Linked DNA regions of Homo sapiens. The protein of the gene in region 2 interacts with the protein of the main gene of each other region in a pairwise test. Each region holds a gene or a part of one and is shown on either strand. Other genes may lie near its edges.

Evidence for each region.
Region 1: the proteins of EIF3E (region 2) and CRYAA interact in binary tests that used the Homo sapiens proteins (3 or more experiments, as listed by UniProt).
Region 3: the proteins of EIF3E (region 2) and LMO3 interact in binary tests that used the Homo sapiens proteins (3 or more experiments, as listed by UniProt).

The regions. Positions count from the first base shown.
Region 1 is NC_000021.9:43,164,552-43,172,007, reverse strand, and holds the start of CRYAA (alpha-crystallin A chain), read right to left. Parts: upstream 3,001-7,456; 5' UTR 2,909-3,000; coding exon 2,720-2,908; intron 1,773-2,719; exon of another isoform or gene 1,677-1,772; coding exon of another isoform or gene 1,599-1,676; intron 1,492-1,598; coding exon 1,369-1,491; intron 972-1,368; exon of another isoform or gene 426-971; intron 1-425. UniProt on the Homo sapiens protein: Contributes to the transparency and refractive index of the lens. In its oxidized form (absence of intramolecular disulfide bond), acts as a chaperone, preventing aggregation of various proteins under a wide range of stress conditions.
Region 2 is NC_000008.11:108,210,712-108,217,813, forward strand, and holds part of EIF3E (eukaryotic translation initiation factor 3 subunit E), read right to left. Parts: intron 6,750-7,102; coding exon 6,623-6,749; intron 5,803-6,622; coding exon 5,701-5,802; intron 4,006-5,700; coding exon 3,896-4,005; intron 1-3,895. UniProt on the Homo sapiens protein: Component of the eukaryotic translation initiation factor 3 (eIF-3) complex, which is required for several steps in the initiation of protein synthesis.
Region 3 is NC_000012.12:16,554,163-16,561,162, forward strand, and holds part of LMO3 (LIM domain only protein 3), read right to left. Parts: intron 6,377-7,000; coding exon 6,251-6,376; intron 1-6,250.

The DNA of each region.
Region 1 (7,456 bases), on a different chromosome or scaffold from region 2:
CAGAGAAGCTGCCCCAGCCCCACTGACTGCAGAAGGGGGCCAGCCTGCGGGGGCTCTCACAGGGGCCGGGTGCAGCCAGCACATCCCATGGCCAGGCCCCCTGGGATTTATGGATTCATGCCCCTGCTTCTCTGGACCTCAGCCTGGCCTCGTGGCCACTTGCCGGGCTATTCCCCGCGGGGGGTTGTCTCTTCCCGCTCCATGGCTTCACTCCAAAATCGCAGGATCATTCCAGACCAGGCCCCGCACCTCAGCCAGTCTTCCCCTTCCAGACCCCGCAGGACTGCTCTAGCCCAGGTCTCTGCAGCCCTACCTAATGTGGCCAGACGACCCACATGCTTCCACGTCCCCTGGACGCCCTAAACCGCAGACTCAGCTCCCTGGGCTGACCTCCTCCTCCACTGGGTGCAAAGACCAAGAGCTGGGAGCTCAGGAAGCATGTTCCAGGCTGGCTGGGGCTACGTGGGGGCTTTACCGGGCCCAGGCGAGGGAGGGGCAGCACATGAGGAGGTCAGCGTTCACCCCCCAGCACCACCTTCTCCAGCCATTGAAAGAGGACCCTGGCCAAAAGAAACCAAGACTTTGGCTAAGAGTTCCACCTTCCAGCCCCACTCTGCTCTCCAGCCCCCGCGGGGCACTGTCCATCTGTGACAGTCCATGAGCTCTTCCCGGCTCCGCCAGGAGATGCAGGTCACCAGGGCTCCAGTGCCCCGGCTCCCTCAACACCACGGAGATCCGAGGCCTCCAGCCGAGCAAGAGCGGGGCATCAGGGTGACTGTGGGGAGAAGCTCCCGTCCACCTGCCCGGTACTAGCTGTGGGACCCAGCAGGCTGAGGACCCCCTTGTTCCCCAGCCGTGCCCTGGAATAATGAGGACACTGGTTCCAAAGTGCTGCTGTGAGGCGAAGGTGTCAATGCCTGTAAAGCATTCCAAGCGGATGCAGCTATGCCGTCGGGGACTGGCTTCCTCAGGTAGGGTTCATGTGAAGATGTACACTGGCTAGGAGGCGGCCACCCGGGGCACTCCCACTTCCTGGGGTTCTTTCTAAGACCACCCTGGCATCCAGGTGACAGGGATGGAGCTGGCGACGGCTGGGTGCAGCCCGGGAAGGGACCCTAACCTGGATCCCTGAGCCACATTAGCTCGGGAATGGTGACCTCTGTCACCGGGAGGGGCTGGCTGTGCTCAGGTGGGCACGGCCCCTCCCTTGGGGAAAAGCCAGGCCTGATTCGGGGTCCCCTGGAGAGCGTCCCTCTCCCAGGGTTGAAGGCATGGTGCAGGTGTGCAGGCCCGGTCGTGCCCGCCGTGACCCCCTTGTCCTCGCGCCCAACTCGCCCCCCTCTCCCACCTCTCAGTGCCTGGGCTCACCTGGCGCTCGTTGTGCTTTCCGTGGATCTCCACAAAGTCGTCCTGCACCTTCACGGTGAGGTCCTCCGGGGAGAAGTGCTTCACATCGAGGAAGATGACGAACTTGTCCCGGTCGGATCGAACCTGAAATCCAAACGTGCCATGTGGAGCTGCCCAGAGGGTGCCGTCCCTGCTGGGGTTGGCAGAGACAGGGCGGGTCCCGGTTATCAGAACAGAGATGCTTCGGTCACCTGCCGGCCTCTTCTCCCACACACCAAGTGGGGCAGAGCTTTCGGGGGCCTGTGACTGTCTCCTGGACAGACAGGCATGACCCTCGACCTGTCTCCAAACCCTCAGGGCCAGCTGAGGGGCTGAATGCTACTGGTGGGCCGGCTGGTTGTTTGGCTATGGTCAGGTGGCTGGTTATAGATAAGTTGGCTGGTTATGGGCTGGCTGGCTACTGGTTATGGTAGGAGGGGTCGTTACGGGTTGGTTGGTCCGTTAGGGTCAATCGTCTGGCTGGTGATGCTTGGCTGGCTGGCTGGACTCAGCCTGTGGAATGAGGTCACTGCCCTTGGTGTCATGCTGTCTATAGAAGCGGCCGGAGCCTGCTGACAGCCTGCGCAGCTGCCTCTCCAAAACGCACTTCCACATGCTCCTTCTCACTCCCCTGGCTCAGCCTTGGCTCCCTGAGGCATTTTGCACCCTGGCGTTGATGCCTACTGCAGCAGCCCTGGGGAGGACCCTGTTTATGAGGTGCTGGGTGGGACTCAGGCCCTCCAGAACAGCAGAACCTGCACCGCTCACCCGTGGCTCAGAGAGGAGGCCTGTGGTTGGGTGGGGGGGGGGGCGTCCATTGCCTGTCCTTTTAGCCTTGGCAGGGCACCTAAGTAAACTTGCCAAGAGCTTTGCTAGCCGTGGGCAGGCCGAGCTCATTGGAGGAGGTGCTAGGAACGCCCTGCTCTCTGGCTTTCAGGACTATGACCCCCACCTGCTCCCAGGTCTCCGGGACTCAGGAGACCAGAGGAACCCGGGAGCTGGCATTCGCCACCACGCATGCCTGGATGGGCTGCTCTTGGGGTTTCCAGTATGTGGCTGGTGCCTTACAAAGCACACATGGGTCATGAGCTGATGGAGGAAAGCAAAGGTGGATTCAGGCTGCTCCCTTGTCCACCCTCTCCCCAGTGCCAGGGGAAGCTCTGCCACGTGGCTGCAGTGGGGACACAGGCTCTCGCCCAGCCTCTGCAAGGGGATGAAGTGGGACGAGGCCACCTGCCTGACGGAGCAAGACCAGAGTCCATCGCTCTCCACCCACCGAGGCCACCACCCTCTGAGCAGCGAGGAGAGGCCAGCACCACGGGCCACGTCTTACCTCAGAGATGCCGGAGTCCAGCACGGTGCGGAAGAGGGACTGGCGGTAGTAGGGGCTGATGGTGGACGACAGGAAGGGCAGCAGGTCATACTCAAAAAGGCCCTCGCCGAAAAACTGGTCGAACAGCCGGCTGGGGTAGAAGGGCCCCAGGGTGCGCTTGAACCAGGGGTGCTGGATGGTCACGTCCATGTTCAGCTTTGGTACCACGGGGACCTGGAGGCTGGCAGGAGTCAGCGGGGCCTCTGGGCAGCGCAGTGTGGAGCCAAGGCCGAGCCCTCCCTATATATGCCACCAGCAGAATGGAGGCATTAAGGGATTTCTCTGGAAAGGCGTGAGCTCATGAAGAAGGCTGCTCAGTCAGCAGAAACGTGGCTGGGACAAGTGCCCGCCCCCAGCCCCAGGAGGGGCTGCACGGACTGTCCCCGAGGCCTGGACTCAGCTGAGGCCCGCCTGGGCACCCTGGGGCTCCCGGGAGGGCAGACAACCCAAGGAGGCGCCTGTGCCCCATACTCGCCTGGGGCGACAATGGAGCTTCTCATCTGCCAGTCACTGGGCAGGGGCTACGTGCCAGGGACCATGCTAGTTCTCTGCACACCTTGTCCTGCCGGGGTGGTCCTCATGGTCGCCAGAGGAGGGAGAGCACACACCCCCGTTAGACACAGAGGTTAGACACATCGTCCTCAGAGTCTCACCGGGCCTGGGCAAGAGTGCACTGGTTTCCAAAGCGGAGTGCATCTGTGAACCTCCGTTACACTCACCACTTACAAAAGTACGCATGCTTGTTAAAACTCGTGGAGAAGAAGCTGCAAGGTGCCATAATTCCAGCACCTGGGGGAGCCCTATGGCGTTTCATGCTTGTCCTCCAGGGGTCACATGCCTCCAACAGGAAGACGGGCTGGGCTGTGGGCAGATGAGAGCACCACGTGGTGAGCTTCCCTCTGCGGCCCACCCTGGACGCCCAGCCCCATGGCCATCGTCCCCTCGATGTAACGCCTCGAGCGTTACATCTCGTAATGATGTAATGCCTTGATGTAACATCCCCACGTAACGCCTCGAGCCTCCGTGGCATGACCTGCCGTGGCTGTTGAGTTGGGCTGCTCCTGTCAGGGTGGCGACATGTCCCCACGTCCCTGTCACCCATGCGGACCCACCACCCACATGATCCTGTTATCCACAAGTCCTGGTGATTATTTTGCTCCTCGACCCATGGCCCCTGTCCAGTTCTCACTAAGTGTCCAGGCACTCCCGGTTTTGTTTGTTTGTTTTTGAGATGGAGTCTTGCTGTGTCACCCAGAGTGGCGCCCAGATCATATAGTGGCGCGATCTCAGCTCACTGCAACCTCTGCCTCCCAGGTTCAAACAATTCTCCCACCTCAGCCTCCTGAGTAGCTGAGACTGCAGGTGCCTGCCACCACACCTGGCTAATTATTATTATTATTATTATTATTATTATTTTTGTATTTTTAGTAGAGACAGGGTTTCACCGTGTTGGCCAGGCTGGTCTCAAACTCTTGACCTCAGGTGACCCACCTGCCTTGGCCTCTCAAAGTGTAGGATTACAGGCGTGAGCCACTGCACCTGGCTCACTCCTAGTTTTAAGTCTTTTGATATTTTGGTATTTTGATATTTTGGTAAACTGGCCCTGGGGAGCATGGTCCTCCCCCACATCCCCCCTGCCAGCCTGGGAAGAGGCCATGCCCCCTCTCCCAGGCTAGCTTTTCTAGTGTACGGTCCAGGCTGTGGGAAGTTGCCTGGTTCTCTTTGGCCTCCTAGTTCCTACTCAGCCTCTAACAGATTCGTGCGTGTGGAGTGAACACACACCCAGGACACTCCCGGGCTTTGCAAATTCATCTCCAGCCCATGGGCTCAGAAGGCCATGAAATGTCAGATGCCCCAGTGTATGCGGATCAGACCTGACACATCCCAGATGGGATCAGGGATGAAAGGGGGGGCTCCGAGGCGTGCTCCACGGGGCACCTCCATCATGAGCAGCACCCATGAGCAGCACCCTTCCTCCTACATTTACAGCACTGTCCGGGGACACAGGATCCCAAAAAATCTTGAAATGATAGCTTTTGCCCTGCAAGGTTACAATTCCAGAGGAGCGATTCCCTGGGGTGCCAAATTAAGGTGCAGATAGGAAACGCTGGGAGAGTGATGGGTGCTTCCCCCGAAAGCCTACACCAGACCTCTCTGCCTGTGGGTCCTCAGAGCCACCCTGTGAAGCAGGTCCCAGCATCATTCCCGCTTCATAGACCAGGAAATGGGAGCTTAGAAGGTTAAGCCGCACGCCCAGGTCACTTGGCTTGGAAGAAGGGAAGGGGGTTTAAAGCCACCTTTCCAGTCTGGGGGTCAACATCCAAGCAGTGGCAGGGTCTGGGTGAGGCAGCGGGCGGCCCCACTGTGCTGGCTGCCTATTCCCGGGGCACAGGGAGGGGGAAGAAGAGTCCTTTGGGATGGAAACCAGCATGGAGCTTGGCCCTGGGGAGGGTCGAGCCAGGCCAGGAGCACGGTCAGTGCTGGGCAGAGCCATGCTGGAGCTTGAAGCAAAAGGAGAAGGCCGTCGTCCTCATCCTGGCTTTATGTAAAATGTTGACAGTTTGTCCACCACAAATTTTTTGCATTCATTTTGATTTACTTATTTATTTTATTTATTTATTTTTGAGATGGAGTCTCGCTCTGTCGCCCAGGCTGGAGTGCAGTGGCACAATCTCAGCTCACTGCAACCTCTGCCTCCCGGGTTCAAACGATTCTCCTGCCTCAGCCTCCCAAGTAGCTGAGATTACAGGCACACACCACTACACCCAGCTAATTTTTATATTTTTAGTAGAGATGAGGTTTCGCCGTGTTGGCCAGGCTGGTCTCGAACTCCTGATCTCTGGTGATCCACTCGCTTCGGCCTCCCAGAGTGATGGGATTACAGGCGTGAGCCACTGCGCCCGACCCATTTTGATTTGTTTAAACATTGCATCAAAACATGATTTAAACATCAGAACATTGATGGCAGTGTTTTTAGTGCCCCTGACACTTGGCAGGGAGGGAGGAGCTGTGCTGTCCTTCACAGCTGGCCCTGCACATGGTCAGTCAAACAGTGGAGACTGCAGGCTGAGGAGGCAGCTGAGGCACCAACCTGGGGCTGGGCACCAGCCTGGTCCTATGGACTGCACAGCTCTGGGTGCCGAGGATGGGGCAAGGTCCTCAGACACGGGGCAGGGCAAGGTCCTCAGACACGGGGCAGAGCAAGGTCCAGGCACTCACACCTCTTGCGCCCCTCACCACACGCTGTAGGGCCTGGCGGCTCAGAGGCCGCCGTGGGACGTCGAGGCTCTGCCACAGGATTGGCCGGGCCTGCAGGGGGCTTCTGAGTGAGCCAGCGCCTGAGTCTGCACAACAGAAGCAGGAAGGCCTGGACCGGGGGCAGGGAGGGCTCTAGGGCCCTAGGGGCCTTTTCAAACCCCGAGTTTAGGTGTTGTATTAGTGTCTTGTGGCTGATGTACCAATCACAGACTTAGTGGCTTAAAACAACACAAACGTCTTCTCTCACAGTTCTGGAGGCCACAAGTCTGAAATGTGTCTCATTCAACTTAAAGCAAGACACTGGCAGGGCTGGCTCCTGCTGGAGGCTCAGGGGAGTCTGTTTCTTGCCTTCTCTGGCATCTCAAGGCACCTGCCTTTCTTGGCTCGTGGCCCCTCCTCCACCTTCAAAGGCAGTGGTGGGCGGTGAGGTCTCTCCCATCACATCCACCTGGCAATTACGCTCTCAGCCCACCTGGATAATTCAGGATCACCCCCACCACATCTCAAAGCCGGCTACTTTCAGGAGCCTTAACCCCCACTCGCTGGCCCGGAGCCTGCTGTGCAAACATCCTCACTTAATTGATCCACACTGGTCGAGTCCTGTCTCTTAACGCTGTGTTAAACAAAGTCCCTGCTTTTCTGGAGCTGATATTCTCTTGGGTAGAGACAAGCAACAAACAAGTAAATGCACGCTGATGTCAGTGCATCCGCCTGCCAGAGCCCTGCGCCATTCGCCTGGATTCTGGGGAAACAAGACCCTTTTGCTCTGGACCTGGGCTCCTCCTGAAATTTGTGTTGAAGATGCTGCCTCAAAGCCACAGTGTGCAGGTGGCGGGCAGGGGGAGGTGACAGCCAGTGCACTGAGGGATATGATGTCTGCGGAAAATGAAAAACCAGAATGAAACCAAAGACAAGTCAGTGTTCTTTTCCTGATTCCCAGCCACTGTCCATGCAAATCATGTCAGCACAAAATCCCCTTTTGCTGGGCTAAGTTCTAGCAATTGCTGCATTCATAGCAGTTGTTTCTAGAGGTAGGGGTGTTCTATAAAGCTGCTGTGAGCACTGAATTAGTGATGCCTGGACTGCTGAACCATGGCTCCCAGGGGAGACACAGGCTTAGGGTCCTGCGAGCCTCTGGCCCCAATGTTCTCATCAGCTGAGCAATGCATCATTTGTCTTATGAGTGTTTCTGTGTACAGATGCTTTACTGAGGCCAGGCGTGGTGGCTCACGCCTGTAATCCCAGCACTTTGGGAGGCCAAGGCGGGTGTATCACCTGAGGCCAGGAGTTCAAGATCAGCCTAGCCAAAATGGTGAAACCCCATTTCTATTAAAAATACTAAAATTAGCCAGGCGTGATGGTGCAGGCCTGTAATCCCAGCTACTTGGGAGGCTGAGGCAGGAGAATCGCTTGAACCCAGGAGGTGGAGGTTGCAGTGAG
Region 2 (7,102 bases):
CATTAGGTATATCTCCTAATGCTATCCCTCCCCACTCCCCCCACCCCACGACAGGCCCCGGTGTGTGATGTTCCCCACCCTGTGTCCAAGTGTTCTCATTGTTCAATTCCCACCTATGAGTGAGAACATGCGGTGTTTGGTTTTCTGTCCTTGTGATAGTTTGCTCAGAATGATGGTTTCTAGCTTCATCCATGTCCCTACAAAGGACATGAACTCATCATTTTTTATGGCTGCATAGTATTCCATGGTGTATATGTGTCACATTTTCTTAATCCAGTCTATCATTGATGAACATTTGGGTCGGTTCCAAGTCTTTGCTATTGTGAATAGTGCCTCAATAAACATATGTGTGCACGTGTCTTTATAGCAGCATGATTTATTATCCTTTGGGTATATGTCCAGTAATGGGATGGCTGGGTCAAATGGTATTTCTAGTTCTAGATCCTTGAGGAATCACCACACTGTCTTCCACAATGGTTGAACTAGTTTACAGTCCCACCAACAGTGTAAAAGTGTTCCTATTTCTCCACATCCTCTCCAGCACCTGTTGTTTCCTGACTTTTTAATGATCGCCATTCTAACTGGTGTGAGATGGTATCTCATTGTGGTTTTGATTTGCATTTCTCTGATGGCCAGTGATGATGAGCATTTTTTCATATGTCTGTTGGCTGCATAAATGTCTTCTTTTCAGAAGTATCTGTTCATATCCTTTGCCCACTTTTTGATGGGGTTGTTTTTTTCTTGTAAATTTGTTTAGGTACTTTGTAGATTCTGGATATTAGCCCTTTGTCAGATGGGTAGATGCTAAAAATTTTCTCCTATTCTGTAGGTTGTCTGTTCACTCTGATGGTAGTTTCTTTTGTCTTTCTAACCCACTAAAGCATCCTTAGAAACACGAAGAAGCTTATCTTCTTAATTCATTATATAATAAAGGTATTAAATTACTGATTTTTCACTCCATTACTTTAGCAGGCTGTAATTACACGCCTAAAAAACTGGTTACCTAATGCAGTGGTTTTGGATTCTGGCTGTGCTTCGGAATAACCACCCTCAAGATACAGCACAGCAGCCCTGCTGCAAATCATAGCATAGCCTACTCAATAAATCTGATTCAATGGTTTAGGGTGGCTATAGGGAGTTTATAAAACAAACTCTACAAAGATTCTGAAACACAGAGTTAAAGTGACTTAGGGTTTTCATCTTTATCCTCTGGCTCAACTGATAAACTAAATGACAAATTAATCTAAACCTGACATTTCTAAAAATATAAATTGTTCACAATATAAAAGAACTTACAGTGAGGTACAGTACAATGAATGTCAGATACCTTTAGTACAGGCTCTATCAAGACCTAGCTTAATGTCCTTGAGCTTTAAATTTCCTGGCTACAAAACAATGCAGTTGTTCTGAGTCAGTGTTTTGTAAAACTGTGTTCCAAAGAGGTGTCTTAGTAGTCAGGAGAGAAGCTGAACAGAACTGTAAGATAGGCACGGTGAATGGGCTCTGCTTTGATCTGCTTATACACATATATAAATACATATATTCATATATATGATATTACATTTGAAAATAAGTCCCACTGTCACACAGAGATTTGGAAACCATACTTCAAGATCTTGAAATGTGAGCCATCTATGAAGTATACTGTACTGAACACATAGAAACACATTTTCAGATATAAAACATTTCTATCACTACAGAAAATTCTACTGAGAAGTCCTTCACCTGAAAAGTAACTGTGTTGTTGGATCAGAAGATCCCTAAGATTTCTTTCAGATTGAAAATTCTACCATAGTACTTGAAAAAACGCTGGGCGCAAGTGGCTCACGCCTGTAATCCCAGCACTTTGGGAGAACAAGGCAGGGAGATCACTTGAGGCCAGGAGTTCAAGACAAGCCTGGCCAACATGGTGAAACCCCATCTCTACTAAAAGCACAAAAATTAGCTGGGCGTGGTGGCACATGCCTGTAATCTCAGCTACTTGGGAGGCTGAGGCACGAGAATCTCTTGAACGCGAGAGGCAGAGGTTGCAGTGAGCAGAGATCGCACCACTATACCCAAGCCTAGGCAACAGTGCAGGACTGTGTCTCCCCCCAAAAAAAGAAAGAAAAAGAAAAACATACATTATTGATCTATGTACTCTTAATCATCTTAGTAAAACATTGAAAAAAAAATTGAAGAACTGAAGTGAAAGAAAATGCTACTACTAGAAAAAAAAATATTTTTAGACTCTGGAAAGCCACTAGGACTTTAGTCTGAAAATGCTTTGTAGATTTTTGTCTAGCAGAAAACTACAGAGATCAAGGAAGTAATAAAAATCTACACGGAGAAAAGTCTGAAAAATTCTTAGGTAGTGTCACATAAAGGTATATAGAAACATTCCCACTCTATTAACTTCTTTGAGCTGCACATCTCCCTTCAGTAAGGAGAACACATACTTAATCTATGTTCCTCTTAAAAGATAATAAACCAAATCCCAAGAAAGAAAATAATGAATACATGGCTGCAGAGTTAAAGGAAAAGAGCTACAACAAATCTTATTGATAGTACCTCGGAAGCAAACACCAAAGCAGACAAGCATTATCATGGACAAAAATGCCAAGTTCACTAATAACAGAAGAAATTTACTTAACAAATATTTATATTGTATACTCACACTATACTGTACAAAGCATATTAGGTGCTACAAAGTTAGTATGTTAGGTGCTAAAGATGCAAAAAAAAGGGTCAGCTTTCAAAAGGCCCACAACAGCGGTAGTAGCTAAGTCAGTTCTGGACCAAAAAGCACCCAAATGACCACATTCTAATGAGAAATGGAGAAAATTCTACAAGGGAAACCAAAATACTAACATCCCTCTTTCACAAGCCCTAATTACAAACCTTAAAAACAAAGAACAATGCAAGAATTCAGTTACTACTATCCACCGGAGCCCCACATATGATGTACCTACCTCTTTATTTCATAACCAATTACATTATTAGGAATTTTCATGTAATTTGTAAGAGAATCAGGTTTAAAAAATTCTGTCTGCAAGCTACAGTAAAGTGCTAATAAAACTGTGAAGGCAAGGATTCAATTCCCATAGGAAAAATCCCATGATTATACTATCCTTCTAACTCTGGACAACCACTTCAACGGACGGCCCACTAAAATTAGGCAAGCGAAGTATGGATAAGCAAAAACAAATGGCATTAAAGAAAAAGAATTTGTTTTATGCACAATTCCTCAGAAGCAAACACTAAAGCAGTAGGTTTTTAAACATTTGTTTGACTTCCTCTGTGCCCAAAGGGCACTAGTCATTTTTCAAACTGTAATGTGTACAATTTATTTCTAATAGGTTATGTACATTTCACAATTTTTTCCCAATATTTTCTGACAAAACAGGAAATTACAACTAAAATTCACTATAATTTTTCCATCTTTCAACATTTTAAGATGCCATAGGAGTTTACTATAGGAGAAGTCAAATATGTAATTAAATCATACAAACTAAATGGAAAGGATTACCAAATGTAGTGGTCTTTCAACAGAATTTCCAATTTAATGGGTATCTCCTTTGTACTGTTGTTGAAAACCATTTTAGAAATGTTTACTACACTTTTCTCCTTACGTAAAGGTACAAGAGTATTTACTCTTCAATAAGGTAACTGATAATCATATATTGCCTTCAACTTAGTATTTTGAAAAATTATGCCACTCAAGCTAAAACTATCTGAGCCTGTAGCAAAAGTTAGGTTTTTAAATAATTTTATCAAATTGTTTCATTGTTCTTCTGAAAGCAAAAATAAATAAAAATCCAATTAACTGGAATTCTATTAAGTGTAAATTCACAATAAATGGAAATTTCCAGGAATTTTAAAGTAGAAAATCCAAATCAAATCACGGTGTTCTTACTTAATGCTGATACACTGGTGGATGCGACAGAAAGTCTCAAATATGAAGAGACGGGCATTTTCAATGAAATCCTCAAGACAAGCCACCAAGAAGAAGTCATTCACAAGCACCTATATGTACAAATACAACAAAAATTAATGATGCTGACAAGCAATTGCCTGAAACGTGAATCAAATACTTTATCTGCTTTATTTTTCCATTCTACAATCATGAGTTTTATACCACAGCACTTTCTAGAACACTGTGTTCAAATCTTTAATGATTTAAATAAGTAGTAAACGAATACCACAAGATAAAGACCTAAAAACTGCAATGTTTCTGATAACTTTAATAAAGTAGCCTTCTGACAACAAAGTTTGGTACTATCCATTATTCTACATAAATGCTCTGCAGATAATGTTATCTCTTCCAACTATTTAAAATAATTATAAATGGACTACAAGCTCGGAGTATTTCTACAATATTAAGTAGACTTAGAAATTAGAAGGAAAAGAATGCAAAAGGTGGCTACTATTCCACAGATGGTGTAATTAAGAGAGAATATTTTAATTTCAAGAACAGCAACCAAGTACCCTCTAGGTCTTTTAACATCAAAACCTAGACACTTAGCATAATGAATATACGCCAATATTTACCTTAATAATGCAATATATGACTACAAAAAAAAACACCAATTACCATATTGGATTCTAATTTTCTATTCCATCTAATGTTTGAAAATCATCAGGGAGGCCAGGTGCGGTGGCTGACGCCTGTAATCCCAGCACTTTGGGAGGCCGAGGTGGGCAGATCACAAGATCAGGAGATCGAGACCATCCTGGCTAACATGGTGAAACCCTGTCTCTACTAAAAATACAAAAAATTAACCGGGCGTGGTGGTGGGCGCCTATGGTCCCAGCTACTTGGGAGGCTGAGGCAGGAGAATGGTGTGAACCCGGGAGGTGGAGTTTGCAGTGAGCCGGGATCATGCCACTGCACTCCAGCCTCGGCAACAGAGTGAGACTCTGTCTGAAAAAAAATAAAATAAGAAAATCATCAGGGAATGGATATTTGCATGATCATTTTTTTCCTTAGAGAAGTAAGATATTTGTCAACAAATTGCCCATTTTGTGCCAAAATTTTGGTTCCAAGGGTGAAACTGATAACCAGTAACTTGTGAATCTGGTAAATGCAACTACATTTAGCAGTTAGAATTCTTAGTTTAGTTTCTTAAAACTTGTAAACTAATTATTCAAAACAACTATAAGTCTTCCATTTGCTCTAAAGGTACTTTAATTTCTACTAAACAATAAGAGACACCGCCGTTATAAAATTCGTAATTACAATGAATTGCCTGGTTTATCACAAATGTTAAATACAACCATGGGAAATATTCTAAAGATAAGCCCATCTATGAACCAAAATTAAAAACACAGTTGTTATTTGCAATTCAAAGTGACCTTGCCTGTACATATGAAATATTAAAAATATTCATTCGAGATTTAAGACATGAAATTATGGATATGTCTGTAAATTTAAATTACCCCCAATGTTTTAACAAACTCCCTCACAAAAGGGATAAACACATGGCAACAACATTAAAAAAGTCATCACTCTAGCACATTCCCATTTTAAGATTAATAAACACAAGCCATTTAAGCCATTTTAAGGTTAATAAACATGAGCCATTTAGGCCTTTTTAAGATTAATAAGCATATTTCCGTTATAATTACTTCATTACTTTAAGGAAGACACTGCAAGATTAACGTTACAATATCCAAAAATTTAAGAATAGTATTAGTTTATAAATAAAAATTCACACTTACTGATTCACATTCCCTCAGCTTTTTCTGAGCCCCATCAAAGTCAAAGTTAACATATAAACATTCAACAAATTCTGTAATTGGGTCTTTATATGTGTAAGACTCCTGTAAAAATAAGTCAACGGTCAAGGTAAGTCTGATTCAACATTGTTTAGCAGATTGCCCCAGAATATCCCAATCTTCTTGTTTTCTCCTTCTTTACCATTAATTTCTAGCCAAATTACCTAGCATCTTCCCAAAACAATTGTTCCTATCCTGATTCCAGACCACACCTTAAGCTTATTATGTCTTTCAAACCAAGTTCTCTAAAGTCTCATCCTAGAAGCATTCTGAAAGCTTTCAAATTCCTCTACTACCAAAAGTCTCCCTTGGTCAATAAACAGTAATAAACTTCCCCAATCATAAGGGTATTCATTCCCTACTGAATGACAATAACTTCTTTGTATTTAATACACTCTTAAATAAATATTTAAGTTATATTTCTAATCTACGGGTTTTGCTGACAAGCTCACTAAATATCAATCAGCATGGCTGCCTGAAACCTTTTGCCCAACTTGGGGTCTATTGAAACGGTATTGTATATAAAGTTCACCCATGTAGAATTACACAGGTAATGACCCCCACCTCCAGGTTCCAGATTTTCTTCACTCTTTGCAATAAGAGAAACACATACACATAATGTATATATTAAGTGTTCATCTAGCAGACAGTAATAATCATTCCTACCACATCCAACTTGTGTATCTTGGACTTAAGGAAAACAAAAGCCCATTTGAGGGTCTTCTCTTTTCTAAACTTCAAGTATTCCTTCCACCTATTTTTAAAAACGTTTGTACCTTAAGAACTAAGTCTTACCTTAGAAAAAGAGGTTAGACCTAAAGCTTAGGTATTTAAAAAAAAAAATCAATATATATTTTAGTTTTACCTGTTGAATAACTTTAACTAGATCTTTTAGAACCTGCCGACGTTTTCGAACATCCTTGTTTGTTATGACTGCTGTAGTCAAATAGCGAAGAATGTGTGGACACATTGTCTGAATTGCATTAAGATATCTAAGAAAAAATATAAAAGTTATTTAATAACTTACCCAGGGTGAGATAAAGAAAACTCTCGAGCAGGTCATTAGATTGTACTATTTCACTAGCCTAAGACTGCAAACACTTAAGAATGAGTATTATAAGAAAATCTCCTCCAAGGAAATTTAAAAACAGAATCCAGTTTCAGGAATCCAAATGAGGAGAATGCTAGCCACTATTTCTTTAATATGGGGTGAGATGGAAGACTCAATCAAGAGGCTAATTATCCTATTATTATTTTTGAGTAACAGGATTTTGCAAGGTTCATTGACATGCTGTCAGTCTGTTCCAAAAGGCTACTAAGCGATGACTTTCATTCACCCATTAGA
Region 3 (7,000 bases), on a different chromosome or scaffold from region 2:
AGAAGTATATGAAACAAGTGTAAATAGTAAATCATCCTTATAAAATATAGTGCTTAGTTTTAAGCAGGTTATCAAAAGCCTATGCTAAGAAGCCTCCACTGGTAACATCCCTTTTAAGAAATAAAAATGTTAGCCTAGCCATCTTCTTTCCCTAATGTTAGTGACTGACAATTATGATTAATTTCTATCTTACAACACTTAGCTAGGGAGCTCCAATCCATATTTCTAGTGTCTATACTTTCCTATTCCACATCTTCAGTTAACTGTAAGTTAGAGATTTCTATACTATACTGTTTTCAATAAGAAGTCCGGGTTGTGTACTCATTCCTCCACTATACACCTGTGAACAAATTTACTGTCTTTCCCACTGACAGTCCGGTTGTCATTATACATCTCACTGCTAACAACCCTTAGTGTATCAAATGACACTACCCACACCCCAAATCTTGCTATACATTATTCAAAGTTTACCTTACTTTAAGTCCACTATATCTATTCACATTTATATGCTCTTAGTCAGAAAATAAAATACCTCTCTTGAAATGGGCCTGACTCCGGAGAGGGAGACCAGATTCGCTCCGCCTCCCGGGTTCCCGCCATTCTCCTGCCTCAGCCTCCCCAGTAGCTCTGACTACAGGCGCCCGCCACCTCGACCGGCTCATTTTTTTGTATTTTTTAGTAGAGACGGGGTTTCACCGTGTTAGCCAGGATGGTCTCGATCTCCCAACCTCGTGATCCGCCCGCCCGCCTCGGCCTCCCAAAGTGCTGGGATTACCGGCATTAGCCACCGCGCCCGGCCAGGTTTAAATCTTGAGTCTACCACTTTCTTCTAACTGTAATCTTGGGCAAGTTACTTACATTTCCTATACTTTACTTTCCTCATCTGTCAAATGAAGCTAATAACTACCTATTTATGGGATATTTTGAGTATTAAACGAATGAGTACATGTAAAACACTCAGAACGGTGTTTGGTGTTTGACTAATACTTTATCAGAATTTGCTATCATTATTATTTGGTAATGATAATCTTTTCACCTTTACTTAAGTTGTTCCCTAGCAAGAAATATTTCTCCCCTTTTTCTGTCTACTTAAATTGTAACAATCCTTGAGTTCCCATTGCCTCCATCAACATCTTCTGACCATGTAAATTTGCTTATTCTGATGTTTCCCAAAGCACTTATTTATTGGTGTATTGTTTATTTTGGTGTTTCAAAATTTCTCATGAATGTGTAACTGGTTTGCCATTATAGTCAGCAGTTCTGCGGTAAATGACCACGAGTTATATTTCTTTTGAACCCTTTGCAGAACCATCATAAACTGTACTACCACTTAAGGTGTGTGGTCAATAAAAATTGGTTAAGGTAGATTTATTCCAGAAACCAACAGCTTTAAATAACAAATGTATTTTAGATGACTAATTTAAATTTGTATTCATTTTGACTTTTATTTAATGGCTTTTCAAAGACTAAGTTTACAATTTCATTTCCTCTAGGTGCTTGCTCTCTTTCTACTCCTCCATGTGCCTACCAAACCGCTTCTCTAATCTCTGAACATACTGAGCCGCTTTTCATTTCCTAAACACGTCAAATGCTTTCACATCTGCATGCCTTTGCACGTTGCTCAATTTGCCTGAAAATTCCTTTCCTCACTGCTCCCTGGCTCCCTCATCTTCCCCAACCCCGAGCAGACACACTTCCTGTAAGTCAACCAGTTCTAGGGAGTTCTTTTTTCAAGACCCAGCATATCAGGCCTTTGATGCTTCCCTAACACTTCAAGAAGGATGGCTCTCTCTTCCCTCAGTATAGCTCTATTTAGCATCGATTACACTCTTCTGTGAGTCTTTGATGTCCTGTCTCTCCCGTAGCTCCGGACACCTCTAAGAAATAAACCAGATTTTATCCACCTCAGCTTCCACAGAGCCTAGCACAGTGCTTTATTCTTAAAAAAAAGAAAATTAATTAATTGTTACATAATTTTACATATTTGGGAAAATTTCATCACAAGCTTTTTATTTTTCCTTTTCTTACAAAACTATCATTTAGTTTTATTGTGTTTTCTAAGGAGAAGGGGCTTATTCACCTTTAAGAAATTAACCTGTTATATAGAATCTTCCAATTCTGAATGAGATTCAAGATATCATAAAATAAGCTTAAATAACCCTCCTGCGGTACCTTTTAAAATAGAGAAACTAGCCGAATTTTAATGCAGGATTCACGTTTTAGCTATACGCCTCTAAAAGGGGCAGAGGAGATCTATATATAAGGGACAATCAATCCTGAAAGGTTATTATTACTGCTACTTTTTAAAACATTCAGAAATGCTTTGGATCTTAATGATACTTTGATTTAAAGGTAAAGATGAAATGACTGCTGAATACAATTCACAAACGCGTAATTCCACAACTTTAGACGTCAATAAAGTTTGCTTAAGAGAAAATGCCTATGAATTACCTATTTGCCTTGTGTTTCACTTGAAAAGTGCAATATTGCGACAATGATTTGGCTACTGGAAGTGGGATATGGGTTTCCTGGAGGAGACTGAAGCAAACTTCAGAGTAAAAGGAGAATCTCCTATATGAAAACCTTCTGTATCCTGGGTAACAAAATTTGTCTGCTTTGCTTGACTGATGAAGATTAGCTGACTTCCCGCATTAGTTTGTCTTGTAGGGGCTGAAGTGACAAGACAATAACTAAGTGCTAATTGTGCATAACCGGCACTAAAGATATGCAGTCCCATTATGGCATGTAATAAATGAAGCGAACACAGAAATATATTAGGTACTTTAATAATGATACTAGAATAGTATTTCGCAGCAATAAGAATGTGAACAGTTTTAGAGTCAAAATTTAGGAGTGTTTGTCTTACTTGACTGAGTTCTCCTGAGGAGACAGACTTAATTGTGAATGCAACTTTTTATTTCAATGGTGAAATAAAATAGATATATGATTTGTAAATAGCATTAACAACCTACAATTACTTTGCATCATAATAGAATTTAGGCTGGGTTTAGCACTTGAATGTTTTTATTTTCTATGTAGAACATGGATAAAATAGGTAACCCTACTTAATAGAAGAAAATGGACAAAGGACATAAACTGCCTACTTCTCTAAAAGAAGGAATACCAAAGGACCACCAGGGATCAAATAAATGCCAGTTAGAAATTATAATGAAATACTATCTTTCATCCCTTAAGGTGGCAAGGATTTTTTTTTTTTTTTTTTAAACGTAATTCCTAGTGTTTTAGAATGAATGTGAGGGAATGCGTAGTTTTGTAGATTTCTGCTAGGAGAATAATTGGTATAACTTTCCTGGAGATCATTAAGCAATGTACAGCATATGCCTTCAAACTGTTATATACCTTGTTTAAGTAATCATGCTCTGTGAATTTAACCAGATAGAGATATGAGCATTTGTTTTTATACAATCTGAATATCTACATTTAGCAAGAAACTCTATTGTGATATATGTCTTGTGGGAAAGTCAAGTTAGTGGACTATTATTTGGTAAATTATAAAAATAACTAACTTTTGAGAACCAGTTGTGTTCCTGACATTTAACATAAATTATTTTATTGAAGTTTCAGACTCTGCAAGAGAGGTATTAGTGTTTCTATTTTGTAGGTGTGGGAATCAAATTCAGAGAGATTAAGTAACATACTCAAGATCACACAGTTAATATATCAGCTACTATATGGTGGTGCTGAAATCTGAATCTCTTCTCACTATAAATGTCACATTCTTTCTACTATTCTACAGGGTCTCATAAGGTCCATTTTTATATTGATAATACTGATAATATTTACAGCACAAAAACTTTTGAAGATACAACTTATATATCTGATGATAGAAGACATATGTGAAGCTCTGTCCATAAAGCTGAACTCAGAAAAGCTTAAAATATCTTAAAAGAATTTTTAATGGCAGGTAAAAAAGGCACAAAATATAAATTGAGTGAAAAAGTCCAAATATCAAACATTAGGATTCTCCCTTGTAACTTTAATTTGCTTAAATGTGAGTGTAATATTTATACAATGTCATTTGTCCTATAGACATAGGAACATGTATGGCTGGCTATATATCAAAATATTAAAATGTTTTCTTTTAGAAGAATGAGACATGGGACAATGTCTTGTTTTTATCATTTTCTATTTTCTAAATTTCCTACTATGAATATGTAATCTTTTATAAGTAGAAAAGCAATGACTTTATGATTCCATAATGGGAACTGCATGGTTACTGGCTGCTATTAGTTGATCAACATGACAAGTCAACAAAAGTATTCTAAATTTACTACTAAGACACCTTTAAAATGTATAAAATACATATATACATGCACATAAAGGTGTCTGTATGGATGTGGGAATGTTTGTGTTTGTATATCCTTATCCCTACCAAAAACATGTGCATTTGCCAATTTATTTTCGTCTAAATGTTACCCTAGACTGAATGAACTTACTTTGATTCTCAGTACTTGCTGGGAAGAGTCAAGACATTGTAAGATAACATCTTACATGACTGTCTGGGTAACTATTACATTATAAGGTACATTAGGCAACAATCTGAATATCTACATTTAGCAAGAAACACTATTGTGATACATGCCTTGTGGGAAAGTCAAGTTAATGGAATATTATTTGGTAAATTATAAAGATAACTAACTTTTGAGAACCTGTTGTGTTCCTGACATTTAATATAAATTAATTATTTCATTTAAGTTTCAAACTCTGCAAGAGAGGTGTTAGTGTTTCTATTTTATGGGTGTGGGAATCAAATTCAGAGAGATTAAGTAACATACTCAAGATCACACAGCTAATATATCAGCTAATATATGGTGGTGCTGAAATTTGAATCCCGTTCTCACTAGAAATGTCACATTCTTTCTACTATTCTACAGGGTCTCATAAGAAGATTCTGCATCAAATAGTACCTTTCAGAGTAAATTACAATAACTGAGAACTTGATGCAACTAATATTTATTGATTATATACTCTGCCAGGTGTTCTCACAGAAAGTCAGTGAATTCATTTTCATTAAAATCTATCAAGTGTTCTAATTTTTGAAATGTTGTATTTTTAATACGTACATTTTAATGTTCTAAAATCCTCTCCATTTATCATATAAAACAGGTGCCAGTAGTATATAGTTTTCACAGAAATAAAAAATATAACTTTCAATAAGAAAAAATGGAATTAAGTGATAATACTTTTCAGCTGAAAGAATTCTCTGAGATGAACTAATCCAGCTTCATATGTTACAAATGAAAAACCTGAGGTCCAGAGAGGGAAGGTGTTTGTTTGGTTTAAGATCGCACAGCTTATTAGTGGCAGAGCCCATATTAGAATTTAGGTTTCCAGGTTCCCTGTTCAACACTTTTTCAAATGCTCCTCTCCAATGATAATAATTGTTTAATTATTAGCTATATCTGGACTGATTCTCAAAGATATTTGAAGTAACTGCAAAAGTACATATAGGACAGGGTTAAAATTTAAGGTAAACAGCTAGATTGGGTGGGGGTGGTGGCTCATGCCTATAATCCCTGCACTTTGGGAGGTGGAGGTGGGAGGATTGCTTGAGGCCAGGAGTTTGAGACCAGCCTGGGTAACATAGTGAAACTCCATCATCTCTATAAAAAATGAAAAAAAAAAAAAATTAGCCAGGCATGGGAGTGCACACCTGTACTCCCAGCTACTCGGGAGGCTGAGGCAGGAGGATTGCTTGAGCACAGAAGTTGAGGCTGCATGAGCCATGTTAGTGCCACTGCGCTCTAGGCTGGGTGACAGAACCAGACCTTGTATTTAAAAAAGCAAAAACAAAAACATGAGGGATAAGGAATTTAAAATATAAAAAATAATAAGAATATAAAATACCTGCAACAAATTCCTGTATATTTGCTTCATTGCCAATTTATTTACTCACATAAGTAGTATAAAAAAGTAGATATTTAAAACTACTTTTAAAAAGACAGGAAAATAATAAAAGAAGGAATGAGTAAAAGAAGTCAGAGTTTACGGTAGTGTTTCCATTTTCTGTTACTTGCTCTTATATGATGCTTTTCTTTCAGGTAGAAGTAAGTCTTAAGACCTTTCTTCTCCTTAGTAGCTTGTCTCTGGCATGGGATTAAAGTTTACAGAACAGAAAAACGCTGAGATTGATTGCTTTAAATGTATGAATATAATTTCCACCTATTAAATAAATAGCCAGCACAGAGAGGTTAACCATTTCTTAGAGACCAAAAAGAGACCTGCTTACCTCTGATTACAAAGCTGACATGCAAAGCAGTCCAGGTGGTAAACATTGTCCTTGGCACGCATCACCATCTCAAAGGCAGGGATGAGCTTACTACAGGCAGCGCAGTTTCCCGTTACACCAAAGAGCCTAGAATAAGAAACATTTTTTTTTTTTTACAAACTCTTACAGAGAAATCTGAGATCGTGAAGAGAGATGATGTTAATATACTCTGTAAAGCTACAATACACAATGCTTTATGATGTACACAAGTGGATTTTATCCTAGGTGTATGCATAAATATTCTTCTGCAATATATTCTCCGTTGACCTTCCTTGATGAAAATCACATCTTGTTTGAGAAGAAAAGGAAAAGACAAATACATTAGGAAGCTTACGTAACTGCACATAAACAGAAGTCAATGGGGGTGAATTCATAGCAAAAATCTCTGGGTTAGAGTATATAGAAAATATAAAAGCAATATAACTTTGCTCTTAATGTTATATATTAAACATTTTAGTTGGGAAAGGAACCAACTAATGAATGATTCACTACTTTTTGACATTTAGTTACTAAAAGGTTTGCCATTATTATTAAAAATACATTTATGAAGAAGCCATTTAAATAGTCAAAAAACATAGAGGCGCATGCATGCACCTTATGGCTCTATACCATAGTTATAGCTATGATTATGTTATTCAAGTAGCACATTAAAGTAAATGAGGCTGTAAACTATATATAGCTAGACCAGAAATTGAAGGATAATATACTGTC